Linked DNA regions of Homo sapiens: region 1 is linked to region 2. Evidence: fine-mapped expression QTL. A gene starts in region 2. The other region holds a variant in brackets. All regions are shown on one strand. Distances are between the middles of the regions.

The links. PIP is the estimated chance that this variant, and not a neighbour inherited with it, causes the effect.
Region 1: its variant is fine-mapped to the expression of COLEC11 in tibial nerve (GTEx, PIP 0.91).

What each region holds. Positions count from the first base shown.
Region 1 is chr2:3,618,712-3,627,040 of GRCh38, reverse strand. All of the region lies in intron 3 of COLEC11 (collectin subfamily member 11), which reads right to left. Among named protein-coding and RNA genes, the nearest start is that of COLEC11, 28 kb to the right of the region's middle. RefSeq lists enhancers at 2,148-2,387, 2,418-2,637 and a silencer at 4,873-5,022. The variant C/G (reference allele first, on the strand shown) is at 3,248.
Region 2 is chr2:3,590,372-3,598,700 of GRCh38, reverse strand. It overlaps COLEC11 (collectin subfamily member 11), which reads right to left and starts at 3,589. Exons shown (of 7, transcript NM_024027.5): 1 at 3,533-3,589.

The DNA.
Region 1 (8,329 bases), 28 kb before region 2:
CTATCCACTAGCACCCAGCTAGCAAGCCCACGGGCAGAAGAGCCAGTGGGCCAGGGGAGTTGGCAGGGCTGTGTCCCACTGGAAAGTGAGACTCCAGGGAGGGTGTGGAGGGTGGTGGCGGCTGAGGTCCTGGTTCCCAGCCCATCTGCGCCCCCTGGGGCCCGGGCACCGCCTACCACACAGGCAGAGCGCCCAGGGTGTCCTAGGTCTCAGGGAGGAGATTCATCCCAGGTTGTGTATAAAAAGTCCTAAGTTTATTCCATTCTCTCTTTGACCTAATGTCCTTGTAAACATATTCCATTCTCTCTTTGACCTAATGTCCTTGAGAATAAACATTATCCAGAACAGAGCACTTACAGCTGACGGAAACAGCCACGATTATCAGAAAGAATGTCAGTTGGTTATTGCAGAGGCCGGAAGTCATGCTCATTCCCTAGTGAGTTCCCATGAACAAAAGCACCAGGGCTCAGACTTTCTTCTGTGCAAACGGAGAATAATAACAGCAACCACCAGGCCACCAGGCACCAGGCAACTGCCGCATCCAAGACATTGTGCGTCTATCCTTCCATTTAACCCTTCTGGGAGTCATGGGAGGTAGATCCCCACCCCCCACCCCCCATTTTACAGGTACAGAAAAAGGGGGCTTGGGAAGACGAAGCTGATTCCAGAAGCTGACATAACTGACAGGTGGTGGAGCCACGATACAGACAGGCCCAGCGAGCCCAGGACTGTCTGGTTCCACGTCTGTGGTCTCTGCACTGCTCAGCTGAGGCTGGGACCGCATTGTGCCTAACAATATTCCTCCCTCCCAGCAAACCACGTCCATCTAGAAATGGGGCTTCTGCTCCAGTTCTGTCCAAGCCATGTGGCCATGGGAAGAGTGGTTGCCTATTCTCTGCATCTCAGGGTCCAACTTAAGTGTGAAGGTGGGATTTCCAGATCCATTACCCTGTGATCCCATTTCTACAAAGGACGAGGTGCACTTCCTTTTGGAGATGTCAGAAGCTGTCACGACTGGCTGTGACTGCTGGAAAAAGTAAATACAATGTTATGACTATCCCTGCCTGACAACTCAGATAATAGAGATGTTAAATAACTTTGCAAAGTCTGCCAGGTATGGCGGCTCATGCCTATAATCCCGGCACTTTGGGAGGCCAAGGTAGGCGGATCTCTTGAGGTCAGGAGTTCAAGACCAGTGTGGCCAATGTGGTGAAACCCCGTCTCCACTAAAAATACAAAAATTAGCCGGGCGTGGTGGTGGGCGCCTGTAATCCCAGATACTCAGGAGGCTGAGGCAGGAGAATCACTTGAACCCGGGAGGCAGAGGTTGTAGTGAGCCAAGATTATGCCACTGTACTCCAGCCTTGACAACAGAGCGAGAGTGAGACTCTGTCTCAAAAAAAAAAAAAAAAAAAGTAAAAAAGAAGAAAAGAAACTTTCCAAACTCATGGGTCCAAGCTGAGGCACAGAGTAGACCCCTGAGTGCTAAACGCCCCTCCCCTAAGCTGACTCCCTGGGATGCCAAATGCCACATCCCTTTATGGACTCCTAGCCCTCCCTGTCTCCAGATTTCAGAAACCCTGAATTACGAGTAGCCTCCCGAGTGCCTTCCCTAACCCCCGCCCTGGGCTGGGTCCATGGCCCCCCACCCACCACAAGGCAGCCAAGAACGCTGTCTCAGCAGTCGCTGTCCTGCACATCCTGCCTCAGGCTCACCCTCCATCCGTGCCCACCCCTCAGCAGGGACCTGAGGCCTGCTTGAGCATGGAAGCCTGACCTACACCTGAACATCAGTGGGGACAGGCCTCGGAGCCTGAAAAAGCCTGCTGCCACTTCTAAGTGGGAGAAGGAAGGAAGAAAGGAGGGAGGGAGAAGGGAATTCCTCAGAGGTTTTAATAGAGAATCCTTGCCGCCTTGGATCAGCAAACCATTGTGTTTGTGGATCCTTTGATTAAGATTCTTTAAGAGGTAGAAATGAAAAGAGTCTATCAGACTTTAACCCCATATCTCTGGGGTAGTCAATGTATGTTTAATGACCCTCTGTAAATCTATCAATCTAATACTTAGGAATAACTACTATATCAGGGACTTGGAACCACTTACTCGCAGGATGGCAGAGTGTGATCCACAAATCCCTACCCTTGAGGAATGTATAATCTAATTAGGAAGACAAGACATGCACACATGGGTGATGTTAGGAGGATGGCAGAAGAGGAGCTTTCTACCATAGTCCCCCCAAAGAAGCTTCCATGTTGACAACTCCCCATGAACAAAAGTGTCTTTGTAGGAGTCTGGAAGTCCAGTGGAGAAGTTCCAGCACACTGTTAGAGAAAAAAATCCAAGAATAGATGCACTGATGAGGGTAAGAACAGTTTCACTTTACCCGTGTGACCGTTTCCCACAACTGTAAGCTGAGCAACTGTGAGCTGAGCAACACAGCTCAGTGCCCAGGGAAACCCCCTTGGCCCATGTTTTTTCCCACTGGAGTAAGTGAAAGTGTAGTAAGTGAGCTTCCAGCTCCCCCAGCCATGCAGGATGCTGCCCAAAAAAAGTCTGCTTCTTTCTTGTCTCACCTCCAATACTGAGGTGACTGACATGGAGGAGAAGTTGGGAGAGACTGGGAGCTAGGAAGAAAGGCTATGGACCCTAATAATTGCTCTGCAGATTTTATTAGGAAGCCCCCCAACAAGCTGATGGAGACGCCTTTCCTGTGAACCATCCCAACTGGACCACGGGCACCCAAATGCTCACATGCTTCACCCAACACTCTGCCAGCTCCCCAAAGGCACCCCCACAGATGGCAAGTGCCAGCATCTCACACAGACAGATAGCTTGACTGTGTGGGATGGGGAGGGAGAAGGCACAAGAACTTGAGCATTTCAGAGCACTGCCCTAGGGGAAACTAATGAGAGGCTAGTAGCACCTAGACTGCCTTTGTGGGATCAAGAAAAGGCATATACTCTTTAAAAATTCACCCCTCTCCAAGAGAAGCAAAAGGTGTGGAGCAGGTGCATCCACAGAAATGGTCTGAGAGAGCCTCAGAATCCCTAGCCAGGCTGTTTTGTAAAGAAATCTCTCTCCCAAAAAAAGTCCATAAAGACTAGAGGAGGTGACTGCTTTTGCAAATGAGAAAACAGCAATGCAAGACTTCAAGGAATATAAAGTATCAAGGAAACATGACATTACCAAAGGAACACAATAATACTCTAGTAAACCAATCCCAAAGAAATGGAGATCTACAAATTGC[C/G]TAACAAAGAACTCAAAATAATCATTTTAAGGAAGCTCAATGAGATACAAGAGAACATAGACACACAACTCAACAAAATCAGAAAAACAATACATTAAAAATGAGGAATTCAATGAAGAGATAGAGATTTTTTTTTAAAAAAAGAACCAAACAGAAACTCTAAAGCTGAAGAACAGAATGAATAAAATTTAAAATACAGCAGACAGCATCAAGAGCAGAATTGATCAAACAAAAGAAAAGAAAGAATATGTGAGCTTGATGACAGGTCATTTAAAAATATTCAATCAGAGAAGAGAAAAGAAAAAAGGCATTAAAAGAAATTAAGAAAGCCTGTGAGATCTAAAGGACACCATCAAGAAAGCTAACATTCACATTATGGAAGTTGTATTAGGAGAATATAGAGAGAAGCTAATAGAAAGCTTATTTAAAGAATTAATGCCTAAAAAACTTTCCAAACTTGGGAGTGATGTGGACATCAAGGTACATGAAGCTTAAAGTCTCCAAATAGGTTCAACCCACAGAAAACTTCACCAAGATACATTATAATCAAACTACCATAAATCAAAGACGAGAAGAGAATTTTGAAAGCAGAAAGAGAAAAGAAACTCATCACATCCAAGAGAACCCTCATAAGGCTATCAGCAGACTTCTCAGCAGAAAACTTGCAGGCCAGGAGAAAGTGGGATCATATATTCAAAGTACTGAAAGAAAAAAACTGGCAATAAGATTATGTACTCACAAAGCCATCCTTCAAAAATAAAGGAAACATTAAGAGTCTCCCAGATACACAAAAGCTAAAGAAGTTCCCACTAGACTTCCCTTACAAGAAATGTAAAGGAAAGTTCTTCAAGCTGAAACAAAAGGATGCTAATTAGTAACATGAAAACATTTAAAAGTGTAGAGATAACTGATAAAACTATATACTTGCCTTAGTCTGTTTTCTGTTGCCATTACTGAATATCTGTGACTGGGTAATTTATAAAGAAAAGAAATTCTTTTTTACAGTTCTAGAGGCTGGGAAATCCAAGGTCAAGAGGCCACATCTGATGAGAACTCTCCACAGAGTCTTGAGGTAGCACAGGGCATCACACAGTAAGGAGGCCCACGAGAGAGGCCACCTGGCTTTTATAATAGTCCCACTCTCATGATAACTAACCCACTCCTGTAATAACCCATTAATCTATTAACTCATAAATGGATCAATCCATTCATAATGTCAGAGAACTCATGATCCAGTCACCTCCTAAAGGCCCACTCTCTCAATACTATTACATTAAAGATCAAGTTTCAACGTGAGTTTTGGAGGGGGCAAACATTCAAATGATAGCAATAGTCAAATTCAGAATACTCTGATGGTGTAATGGTTATGTGTAAATCATATATAACTCTAGTATAAAGGTTAAAAGACAAAGATATTAAAATAACTATAGCCACAATAATTTGTTGTTGTTGTTTGTTTGTTTTTAGAGACAGGGTTTCACTCTCTCACCCAGGCTGGAGTGCAGTGACATCATCATAGCTCACTGCAGCCTCCAGATCCTGGGCTCAAACAATCCTCCTGCCTCAGCCGAGACTACAGGCACATACCACCCAGCTAATATATTTTACTTTTTTTTTTTTTTTTTGAGATGGAGTCTCATTCTGTCGCCCAGGCTGGAGCGCGGTGGCACAATCTCAGCTCACTGCAAGCTCCACCTCCCGGGTTCAAGCGATTCTCCTGCCTCAGCCTCCTGAGTAGCTAGGACTACAGGCGAGCACCCGGCTAATTTTTGTATTTTTAGTAGAGACGAGGTTTCACCATGCTGGCCAGGCTGGTCTTGAACTCCTGACCTCGTGATCCACCCGCCTCAGCCTCCCAAAGTGCCAGGATTACAGGTGTGAGCCACTGCACCTGGCCCAATGATTTGTTAATAGATGTACAATAAAAAAGATGTAAATTGTGATATCAAAAACATAAAATGGGGGGTGGGTGTAAAAGTGTAGAATTTTGTGTGTGATCAAAGTTAAGTTGTTATTAGTTTAGCATAGACTGTTATAACTATAAAATGTTTTATATAAGCCTTGTGGTAACCACAAATAAAAAACCTAGTACATACACAAAAGAAAGAAAAAGGAATCAATGCATACTACTACAGAAAATTATCAAACCACAAAGGAAAACAGCAAGAGAGGAAGAAGGAAACAAAGGATCTACCAAGTGACCAGAAAACAATTAACAAAATGGCAATGGCAAATCCTTAACTATCAATAATTACTTTAAATGTAAATAGATTAAATTATCCAATCAAAAGACACGGAGTAGCTTAATAAAAATAAATAAATAAAAAGAAGACCCAACTATATACACTGCCTACAAAAGACACACTTCAGCTTTAAGATCACACATAGACTAAAAATGAAGGGATGGAAAAAGATATTCCACACAAATTGAAACCAAAACAGAATAGGCGTAGCTATATTTATTTTATATCAGACAAAATAGACTATGTCAAAAACTGTAGCCAAGAGTAAAAAAGGGTTTTTATATAATGATAAAAGGTCAATTCATCAAGAAAACATAATCATTACAAATATACACACATTCAACATTGGAGCACCTAAATATGTAAAGCAAATATTAACAGATCTGAAGGGCAAACAGATAGAATACACTAATAGTAGGGGACTTCAATACCTCACTTTCAACAATGGAAAGATCACCCAGACAGAAAATCAGTAAGAAAACATTGTACATAAACTACACTTTAGACCGAATGGAGCTAACAGAGAACATTCCATCCAACAGCAGCAGAAAACACATTCCTCTCCAGTGCACACGGAACATTCTTTGAGATAGCTCATACGTTAGGCCACAAAACAAGTCTTAACAAATTCAAGGAGACTGAAATCATATCAAGCGTCTCTTCTAACCACAACAGGATAAAACTAGGAATCAGCAAGAGGAGGAAAACGAAAATTCACAAATACGAGAAAATTAAACAACACATTCCTGAACAATCCATGAGTCAAAAAAGAAATCAAAAAATATCTTGAAACAAATGAAAATGAAAACACAACATACAAAAACTTATGGGCTACAGCAAAAAGATATTCTAAGAGGAAATTTTATAACAATAAATACCTACATGGAGGGAAAATAAAGATTACAAATAAACAATCTAACTTTACACCATAAGGGACTAGAAAAAAACAAGCAAATGAAGCCCAAAGTTAGCAGAAGTAAGGAAATAACGAAGATCAGAGCAGAAATAATCAAAGAGAGACTAGAAAAGCTGTAGCAAAGCGACAAAACTAAGAGTTGCTTTTTGAAAAGGCAAAAAAAAAAATTGACGAACCTTTAGCTAGACGAAGAAAAAAGAGGTAACTCAAATAAAATCAGAAATGCAATGGAGAAATTACAACTGATACCACAGAAATATGAAGGGTCATAAGAGAGTAATACGAATAATTATACATCAAAAATTTGAATAACCTAGAAGAAATGGATAAATTCCTAGAAACATACAACCCACAAAGACTGAATAATGAAAAAATACTAAATTTGAACAGATCTGTAATGAGACTGATTCTGTAGTCAAAAATCTCCAATCGAAGAAAGGCCCAGGACCTGGTAGCCTCATGCCAAACTTTACCAAAAATTTAAATAGGAATTAATACCAATCCTTCTAAAATCTTACAAAAAATTGAAGAGGAGAGAATACTTCTGAACTAATTTTTAAAAGCCAGCATTACCCTGATACCAAAGCCAGACAAGAACAATACAAGAAAAAAAGATTACAGGCCAATATCCCTGATGAACACAGATGCAAAAATCTTCAACACAATGCTAGCAAACCAAATTTAACAGCACATTAAAAAGATTATACACGGCCGGGAGCGGTGGCTCATGCTTGTAATCCCAGCACTTTGGGAGGCCAAGGCAGGTGGATCACCTGAGGTCAGGATTTCAAGACCAGCCTGGCCAACATGGTGAAACCTCATCTCTACTAAAAATACAAAAATTTGCTGAGCGTGGTGGTGCGTGCCTGTAATCCCAGCTACTTGGGCGGCTGAGGCAGGAGAATCGGTTGAACTCAGGAGGCGGAGGTTGCAGTGAGCCGAGATCATGCCATTGCACTCCAGCCTGGGCAACAGAGCAAGACTCCGTCTCAAAAACAAAAGTATTATACACCATGATCAAGCAAAATTTATGCCTGGGATGGTTCAACATACAGAAATCAATAAATGTGATATGCCACATTAACAGAATGAAGAATAAACATCATATTATCATCAGTAGATGCTGAAAGAACGTTTGACAAAACTCAGTGTTGTTTCATGATAAAAGCTCTCAAGAAAGCACATATACAAAGAATGCACCTCAACACAATAAAGGCCATGTATGAGAAGTCCACAGCTAACATCATACTCACTGGTGAAAAGCTGAAAGCTTTACTCTAAAATCAGAAACAAGGCAAGGATGCCCATTCTCGCCTCTTGTATTCAATATAGTGCTGGAAGTCCTAGCCAGAACAATTAGGCAAGAAAGAAAAAAGGAAAGTGGAAAGGAGAGAAAAGGAAAGGGGAAAGGAAAGAAAAGGAAAGAGAGAAAGAAAGGAAGAGAAAGGGAGAGGGAGGGAGGGAGGCGGGAAAGAAGGAGGGAGGGATCCATCCAAATTGGAAAGGGAGAGGTAAAGCTGGCTCTGTTTGCAGATGGCATAATCTTATATAAATAAAACCCTAAAGACTCCACTAAAAACTGGTTAGCACTAATAAACAAATTCAGTAAAGTTGCAGGATACAAAATCAACACACGAAAATCAGCAGCATTTCTATACACTAACAATGAGCCACCTGAAAAAAATTAAGGAAACAATCTCCTTGACTGTAGCACCAAACAGAATGACATATTTAGGAATAAATTTAACCAAGGAAGTGTTGTGTACCTGTACACTGAGAACTATGAAACATTGAAGACACAAATAAATGGAAAAAATATCTGTTCGTGGATCAAAAGAATTAATATTTCAAAATGTCCATACTACCCAATGCAATCTACAGATTCAGTGCAATCTCTATCAAAATTCCAAAGGCACTTTTCAG
Region 2 (8,329 bases):
GCCTCCTCTCCACACCCCTCACCCGCTGCCTGTGCCCACACCCTTCTCCCCTGTGCTCACGCGGATATTAGAACAATAAGGGCAACCGAAAAGCGGAAACCCAGGACCCCACCAGCTGACTTCACTCCTCCCACCTTCCTTGTTCGCTGCCAGGCTTGGGTCCACATGCAAGTGATCTGTGCAAGCTACAGCTTCGTAAAGGTCTCTGGGCACGCAGAAGCCTGCAGTTTAGCAGGCACCAAACTGAGTGAACAAGTGAATGAGTAAATAAAGGAACAAACAACAGAACGAAAGTTCACAATTGCATCGCAAATAGAGCCTTCTGCTCTTCTCCTCGTGGTGTTTCCGTGTTTCCAAATCTTTATTATATCTAATGTCTACACAGTATTTCCAGGGCAGGCAGTCTGCAGACGTGGGTTACTGCCCTGCTGTCATTGTCCTGAAATTCCTAATAATGTTGAAATGGGCCAAGCACAGTGGCTCACGTTTGTAATCCCACCACTTTGGGAGGCCGAGGTGGGTGGATCACCTGAGGTCAGGAGTTCGAGACCAGCCTGGCCAACATGGTGAAACCCTGTCTCTACTAAAAATACAAAAATTAGCTGGGCATGGTGGCGGGTGCCTGGAATTCCAGTGACTCGGGAGGCTGAGGCAGGAGAATCGCTTGAACCCGGGAGGTGGAGGTTGCAGTGAGTCGAGATCACACCACTGCCCTCTAGCCTGAGTGATAAGAGTGAGACTCAGTCTCAAAAAAATGAAATAAATAAAATAAAATAAAAATAAAAAATACAAAAATAATGTCAAAACAAGGGGCACCACAAGGTTTGTAGCCAGACGTGCTGGTCCACTGGGCTCATAACCGTAGTCTCCCCGGCTCCTGCCTCAGCAGCAGTATTTTGGCTCCTTGTGGTATGTGGCTTCTGAAAGCAATAGTAAACTCTTCCTCCCCACCCACTCAGTACGCAAGTCGAACCTCACTTCTCAGTGTTTGCTGGATGCAAACTGGGTTTAGTTTTTTTTTTTTTTAATGTCTCAGGAATCAAAGGCTGACATGGGAATTTCCCCTCTAGCTAGAAGTGATTCTGTTCAGGTATAACCAGGTGTTCAGCAAGGCTTTTACTGCCCTCACTCCGCAGATGTCCCAGGAGTGGCTTCAACAAAGATCAGGCTCCGTCTCCCAAGAAAAGGGGTGAGTAGTGAGCAGAGAAACCCAGAGCAGCCCAGGCAGGATTTCTCGTGCCTTCACTCACACTCATCTGCTGATCCCAGAGCAGCCCAGGCGGGATTTCTCGTGCCTTCACTCCATTCATCCGCTGACCCCGGAGCAGCCCAGGTGGGATTTCTCATGCCTTCACTCCATTCATTCACTGACACCAGAGCAGCCCAGGTGGGATTTCTCGTGCCTTCACTCACACTCATCTGCTGATCCCGGAGCAGCCCAGGCTGGGATTTCTCGTGCCTTCACTCCATTCATTCACTGACCCCGGAGCAGCCCAGGCCGGGATTTCTTGTGCCTTCACTCCATTCATTCACTGACCCCGGAGCAGCACAGGCTGGGATTTCTTGTGCCTTCCCTCACTTCACTCATCCACTGATCCCCGGAACAGCCCAGGCTGGGATTTCTCATGCCTTCACTCGCTCCACTCATTCACTGACCCCGCTGCCCATTCACAGAGTTTCTGTCCACTTTCCTGCGAGGGGCCCCAGCTAGGCCTATGGGCACAAAGGAGGCACAGGCCCTGCAGCGGGGCGCTCTCAGACGCACAGCAGGAACCAGGGCAGGTAGGCACAGGGTGAGGGCACCCAGGCGCCCGAAGGAGTCTCTGCTTCCCAGAGGTCTCGCCCTCTGACTGCCTTCTTAGAAGAGGAATTCCATTTTGTAAACGGAGAAGCCACAGCTACCCCCAGGACCTCTTTAAGAACAACATCCTTATCTCCCAGCCAGGGCCCAAGACGCTCAGGGCCCTCCCATCAATGGAAGGGGCAGACTTGACAAGCAGGGGAGAGGGGGTTAAACGTGGAATCCTGAGAGGAAATACATGTTATGAATGAAATAAACAATGGGGCCAGGCCCAGTGGCTCATGCCTATAATCCTAGCATTTTGGGAGGCCAAGGTGGGCAGATCACCTGGTTAGGAGTTCGAGAGCAGCCTGGCCAACATGGTGAAACCCCCCTCTCCACTAAAAAGTACAAAAATTAGCCAGGTGCCATGATGCACACCTGTAATCCCAGCTACTCAGGAAGCTGAGGCAGGATAATCGCTTGAACCTGGGAGGCGGAGGTTGCAGTGAGCCAAGACGGTGCCATTGCACTCCAGCCTGGGTGACAGAGCCAGAGTCCATCTCAAAAAAAAAAAAAAAAATGAAATAGACAATGAGAAAAAATCATGGCTTCAGTTGCCAAACATGCTATTCTACTTTTTCATTAAGTATCTACAGCAAGGCCCAGCATCTTACAGGCACCACAAATACCTCCTAAGAACCACATCCCTGAAGCATGAGGAGGTTCCTCTCACTGGGGACTGCCCCAGCCCCACCGCGGTGTTTCCCTCCCTACAGTGACAGAGCACCTTCTGGGGCAGCCTGGATTCCACCCACAACAGCACACGCTCCTCTTAGCTTCTTACCAAGAGCACAGAGTAAGAAGGCACCTATCCTCTCTTATCTTCCCCCAGCGGTCAGCACATTACCGGTGTGCTCTCTTCTACGGTACATGGATTTTTCAAAATTGTAAACAAAATCGAATAGCTGTGAAAGATTGGGGCAGTGCTCTGCCTACCACAGGCAAAGTGCTTCCCATCAAACCAAAATTCCAGCTATGCACATGAGATGGCTTTAAACGTTCATCTTTAAATTGAGAACGACCACATCACCTCAGCTCTAAAAAGACCGCCAGTTCCTAGCGCAAGGCATCCAGGTAGGAGGCAGCGGCCCTAGGAAACTTTCCTCCTTTCCAATTTTGGAGACAAGATGACCCCACTTGGTTTTAGATGACCCCATCTGAACTCAAAGTCTTTCCCTGGAAAGTTGCCAAAGCAAGGCCCACCTTTCCCCCACCTCTCTGATCCCCGTTCCTGAGCCCAACACAGAGCCACTGGTCCCTGGGGGCAGTCGTGGCTGCTGTCCGCCTGGCCCGTCAGACGCTGCTCAGGCTCAGGAACAATCGTCAGGTTGTGAGACCAGGTACTGCACTGCGGTTTGGAATTAGCGAAGACTGTTTAGCCCCCTGGGCCTTGGGCTGTTTGAAATCTGCCACCCAAGAGGGTGACTCCATCATCCAGCACCTCTCATGGGTCGGATCCCATCTCATCAATAGGCTCCACGAATTTCCGCCATGAACTAATCAAACTTTGGAACTCTGGTGCCAGATTTATTGAGACTCAATCTTTTGCCTGGATCTAGGGACAGATTCCCATCCTCCTCGCTCAGCAGGAGCCCACCTCGCGCCCAGTTTGGAAGCCTGCCTGCCTCCCCTCTGCACTGTCATAGCCCCGTGAAACCCTCAGCTGCAGCCCCGGGCAGAGTCTCCTACCTGAGCACGCGCTAGGCGAACGGGGCGTCCTGCCCGTCGCTGGCCCGCGAGGACACTGCCCCCAGGCGCCTCATGGCTGCTATTTAGAGAGGCGGCCGCAGTCCCAGGCGCAGGGAGAAGCCTCGGCCCGGGCCATCAGACAGCCCAGCAAATCAGGCCGCCCGGCCGCAGCGTTATCTCGGGGAGCTTCCTGTCTGCGCTGCGTCCACCGTCCTGCCTGGGGAGTGTGGGAACGCCTGGAACTCCCTGAGGCCGGCTTTGGGGTGGGGGGCAGGACCCTCCTGGAGATGCCCCTGCTAACTCTCCAACCCGAACATCCCAATTTTGTTTCTTTTTTGGCTTTCTCTTCTTTCTTTTCGTTTTTTGAAAAAATAAGCATGACTACTGTGGAAATTCAAAAGAGCATAAAGAGGAGGGACGCTCATCACCTGGCACCAATCAGACAGAAACGAGGGCAGCTGACTGATCTCCTTTCCTTTGTTCATATGGGATTTCGCTTCAAAAGTCAGCAAGAGCTTGACCACGGCCTGTGGAGACCTGGCCACACGTGAGTCCGGAAACTCACTCTACGCATTTAAGTTTCATTTAAAGGCAAGTTTCATTTAATGCCAGAAACAAATGTTAGTCAGGGGCTGGACAGATCCAGCTTCTATGCAGCCCGAATCTTGCATGTTTTGGGGGATAGCGGAACCTTCTTTAAGAAAAAGATACATATAAAATTACAATCATAAGAAGCTAGGTTCAAAGGTGAATATTTATTTAGACTGAGAAATCATAAAATAAAACTGTAAAAACACAAATTCCACACACATAATAAAATTAAGGAAAAATAATGGATTCTTTATTTAAAACGTATTATTGAAGTTATACATAAATTTGACAACTTAGACAAAATGAACCACTTCTTGAAAACACGAACTACAACATGCCCAGCATGAAACAGATAATTCAACAGCCCTATGCCAAGGAAGGGAATTGAACTTGCAATTTAAACGCTCCCCAGAAAGACATTTCAGGGCCAGATGGTTTCACAGGAGGGTCTACAAAACGTTTAAAGAAAAATTAACACCAATTCTACACATCCTCTTCCAGAAAATAGAAGAGGAGGGAATATTTACCAATTCATTTTATAAAGTTGATTATTACCCTGATACCAAAACCAGACAAAGACAGAACAAAAACACTATAGACCAATAACCCTCATGAATATAGATGAGAAAATCCTTAATAAAATATTAACAGACAGAATTCAGCAATATAGAAAAAGATTTATCAACTATGACCAAATGGGGTTTCATCCAGGAATGTGAGGCTATGTCAATATTCAAAGCTCCTTTGATAAAAACCCATTAACAAGCTAACAAAGAAAATCAAATGAATATCTCAATTTATATAGAAACAGCATTTGGCATAAACCAACACCTTTCATGATAAAAACTCTCAGAAAAATAGGTGCAGGGGACCTTCCTCAACTTGATAAAGAGCATCTGTCAAAGGCAAAGCCACAGCTAACATCATACTTCATGGGCAAAAATGGAATGTTTCCTTCCTGAGATCAAGACAAGGCAAGGGTGTCCACTCTTACCTCTTACTCAATGCAGTGCTAAAGTTCTAGGCACACCAGCAGGGCCCGAAAAGGAAATAAACAGCATGTAGATTCGAAAAATAAAATAACTCTGTCCCTTGTTGCAGATGACATGGTTGTCTACTTAGAAAATCCCAGAGTCTACAAAAGAGCTCCTGGAAACTATTAAATCAGTGTGACAGGTGACAGGATACAAGGCAAACATTTAAAAAACCAAGTAGGCCAGGCGTGGTGGCTCACACCTGTAATCCCAGCACTTCGGGAGGCCAAGGTGGGAGGATCACCTGAGGTCAGGAGTTAGAGACCAGCCTGGCCAACAAGGCAAAACCCCATCTCTACTAAAAATACAAAAATCAGCCAGGCATGGTGGTACATGCCTGCAATCCCAGCTACTCGGGAGGCTGACGCAGGAGAATCACTTGACTCCGGGAGGCAGAGGGTGCAGTGAGTTGAGGTTGTGCCATTGCACTCCAGCCTGGGTGACAGAGCGAGACTCTGTCTCAAAAAAATAATAAACAATGAAAAACCAAGCAGATTTCTATAAAATAACAATGAACTCATAGACACCAAAATTCAAAATAATATCATTTACAATTGCTTTAAAAAAGGAATACTTAGGTGTAAATCTAACAAAACATATATAGAACTTACATGCTGAAAACTACAAAATGCTGCTGAAAACCTCAAAAAAGATCTGAATAAACAGAGAAACACGTCGTCTTCATAGATTAGGAGACTCACCCCAAGCACAGTGGCTCATGCCTGTAATCCCAGCATTTTGCAGGGCTGAAGTGGGAGGATCACTTGAGTCCAAGAGTTCAAGACCAGCTTGGGCAACATGGTGAAACCCTGTCTCTAACAAAAACAATACAAAAATTAGCCGGGCATAGTAGAATGGTCCCAGCTACTCAGGAGGCTGAGGTGGAAGGATCACTTGAGCCCGGGAGGTGGATGTTGCAGTTAGCTGAGATCGCACCACTGCACCCCAGCCTGGGTGACAGAGTGGGACCCTGTTTCAAAAATAATAAAATGAAAATTAAAAAGTATAGATTGGGAGACTCAACAGAGTAAAAATGTTGATTCTCCCCCAAGTTAATATACAGTACAAGCTTAACACAATTTCTATCAAAATCATAACAATAATTTTTGTAGATATAGACACGGCTATTCTAAAGTGTATATGAAAAGAGAAAGGAACTAGAATAGCTAAAACAATTTTGAAAAAGAATAAAATAGGAGGAATCAGCTCTCCGTCTCCGTCTCCGTCTCCGTCTCCGTCCCCGTCCCCGTCCCCGTCCCCGTCCCCGTCCCCGTCCCCGTCTCCGTCTCCCTCCATGGTCTCCTTCCACGGTCTCCCTCTGATGCCGAGCCAAGGCTGGACGGTGCTGCTGCCATCTCGGCTCACTGCAGCCTCCCTGCCTGATTCTCCTGCCTCAGCCTGCTGAGTGCCTGCGATTGCAGGCGCACGCCGCCACGCCTCACTGGTTTTCGTTTTTTTTTTTGGTGGAGACGGGGTTTTGCTGTGTTGGCCGGGCTGGTCTCCAGCTCCTAGCCGCGAGTGATCCGCCAGCCTCGGCCTCCCGGGGTGCCGGGATTGCGGACGGAGTCTCGTTCACTCAGTGCTCAGTGGTGCCCAGGCTGGAGTGCAGTGGCGTGATCTCGGCTCGCTACAGCCTCCACCTCCCAGCCGCCTGCCTTGGCCCCCCAAAGTGCCGAGATTGCAGCCTCTGCCCAGCCGCCACCCCGTCTGGGAAGTGAGGAGCGTCTCTGCTTGGCCACCCATCGTCTGGGATATGAGGAGCCTCTCTGCCTGGCTGCCCAGTCTGGAAAGTGAGGAGCGTCTCTGCCCGGCCGCCATCCCATCTAGGAAGCGAGGAGCGCCTCTTCCCCGCCGCCTTCCCATCTAGGAAGTGAGGAGCGTCTCTGCCCGGCCGCCCATCGTCTGAGATGTGGGGAGCACCTCTGCCCCGCCGCCCTGTCTGGGATGTGAGGAGCGCCTCTGCTGGCCGCAACCCTATCTGGGAGGTGAGGAGCGTCTCTGCCCGGCCGCCCCGTCTGAGAAGTGAGGAAACCCTCTGCCTGGCAACCGCCCCGTCTGAGAAGTGAGGAGCCCCTCCGTCCGGCAGCCACCCCGTCTGGGAAGTGAGGAGCGTCTCCGCCCGGCAGCCACCCCGTCCGGGAGGGAGGTGGGGGGGGTCAGCCCCCCGCCCGGCCAGCCGCCCCATCCGGGAGGTGAGGGGCTCCTCTGCCCGGCCGCCCCTACTGGGAAGTGAGGAGCCCCTCTGCCTGGCCAGTCGCCCCGTCCAGGAGGGAGGTGGGGGGGTCAGCCCCCCGCCCGGCCAGCCGCCCAGTCCGGGAGGTGAGGGGCGCCTCTGCCCGGCCGCCCCTACTGGGAAGTGAGGAGCCCCTCTGCCCGGCCAGCCGCCCCGTCCGGGAGGGGGGAGGGGGGGTCAGCCCCCTGCCCGGCCAGCCGCCCCGTCCGGGAGGGAGGTGGGGGGGTCAGCCCCCCGCCCGGCCGGCCGCCCCGTCCGGGAGGTGAGGGGCGCCTCTGCCCCGCCGCCCCTACTGGGAAGTGAGGACCCCTCTGCCCAGCCAGCCGCCCCGTCCGGGAGGGAGGTGGGGGGGTCAGCCCCCCGCCCGGCCAGCCGCCCAGTCCGGGAGGGAGGTGGGGGGATCAGCCCCCCGCCCGGCCAGCCGCCCCGTCCGGGAGGGAGGTGGGGGGGTCAGCCCCCCGCCCGGCCAGCCGCCCAGTCCGGGAGGGAGGTGGGGGGATCAGCCCCCCGCTCGGCCAGCCGCCCCGTCCGGGAGGGAGGTGGGGGGGTCAGCCCCCCGCCTGGCCAGCCGCCCCATCCGGGAGGGAGGTGGGGGGTCAGCCCCCCACCTGGCCAGCCGCCCCGTCCGGGAGGGAGGTGGGGGGGGTCAGCCCCCCGCCTGGCCAGCCGCCCCGTCCGGGAGGTGAGGGGCGCCTCTGCCCGGCCGCCCCTACTGGGAAGTGAGGAGCCCCTCTGCCCGGCCAGCCGCCCCGTCCGGGAGGGAGGTGGGGGGGTCAGCCCCCCGCCCGGCCAGCCGCCCCGTCCGGGAGGGAGGTGGGGGGGGTCAGCCCCCCGCCCGACCAGCCGCCCCGTCCGGGAGGGAGGTGGGGGGATCAGCCCCCCGCCTGGCCAGCCGCCCCGTCCGGGAGGTGAGGGGCGCCTCTGCCCGGCCGCCCCTAC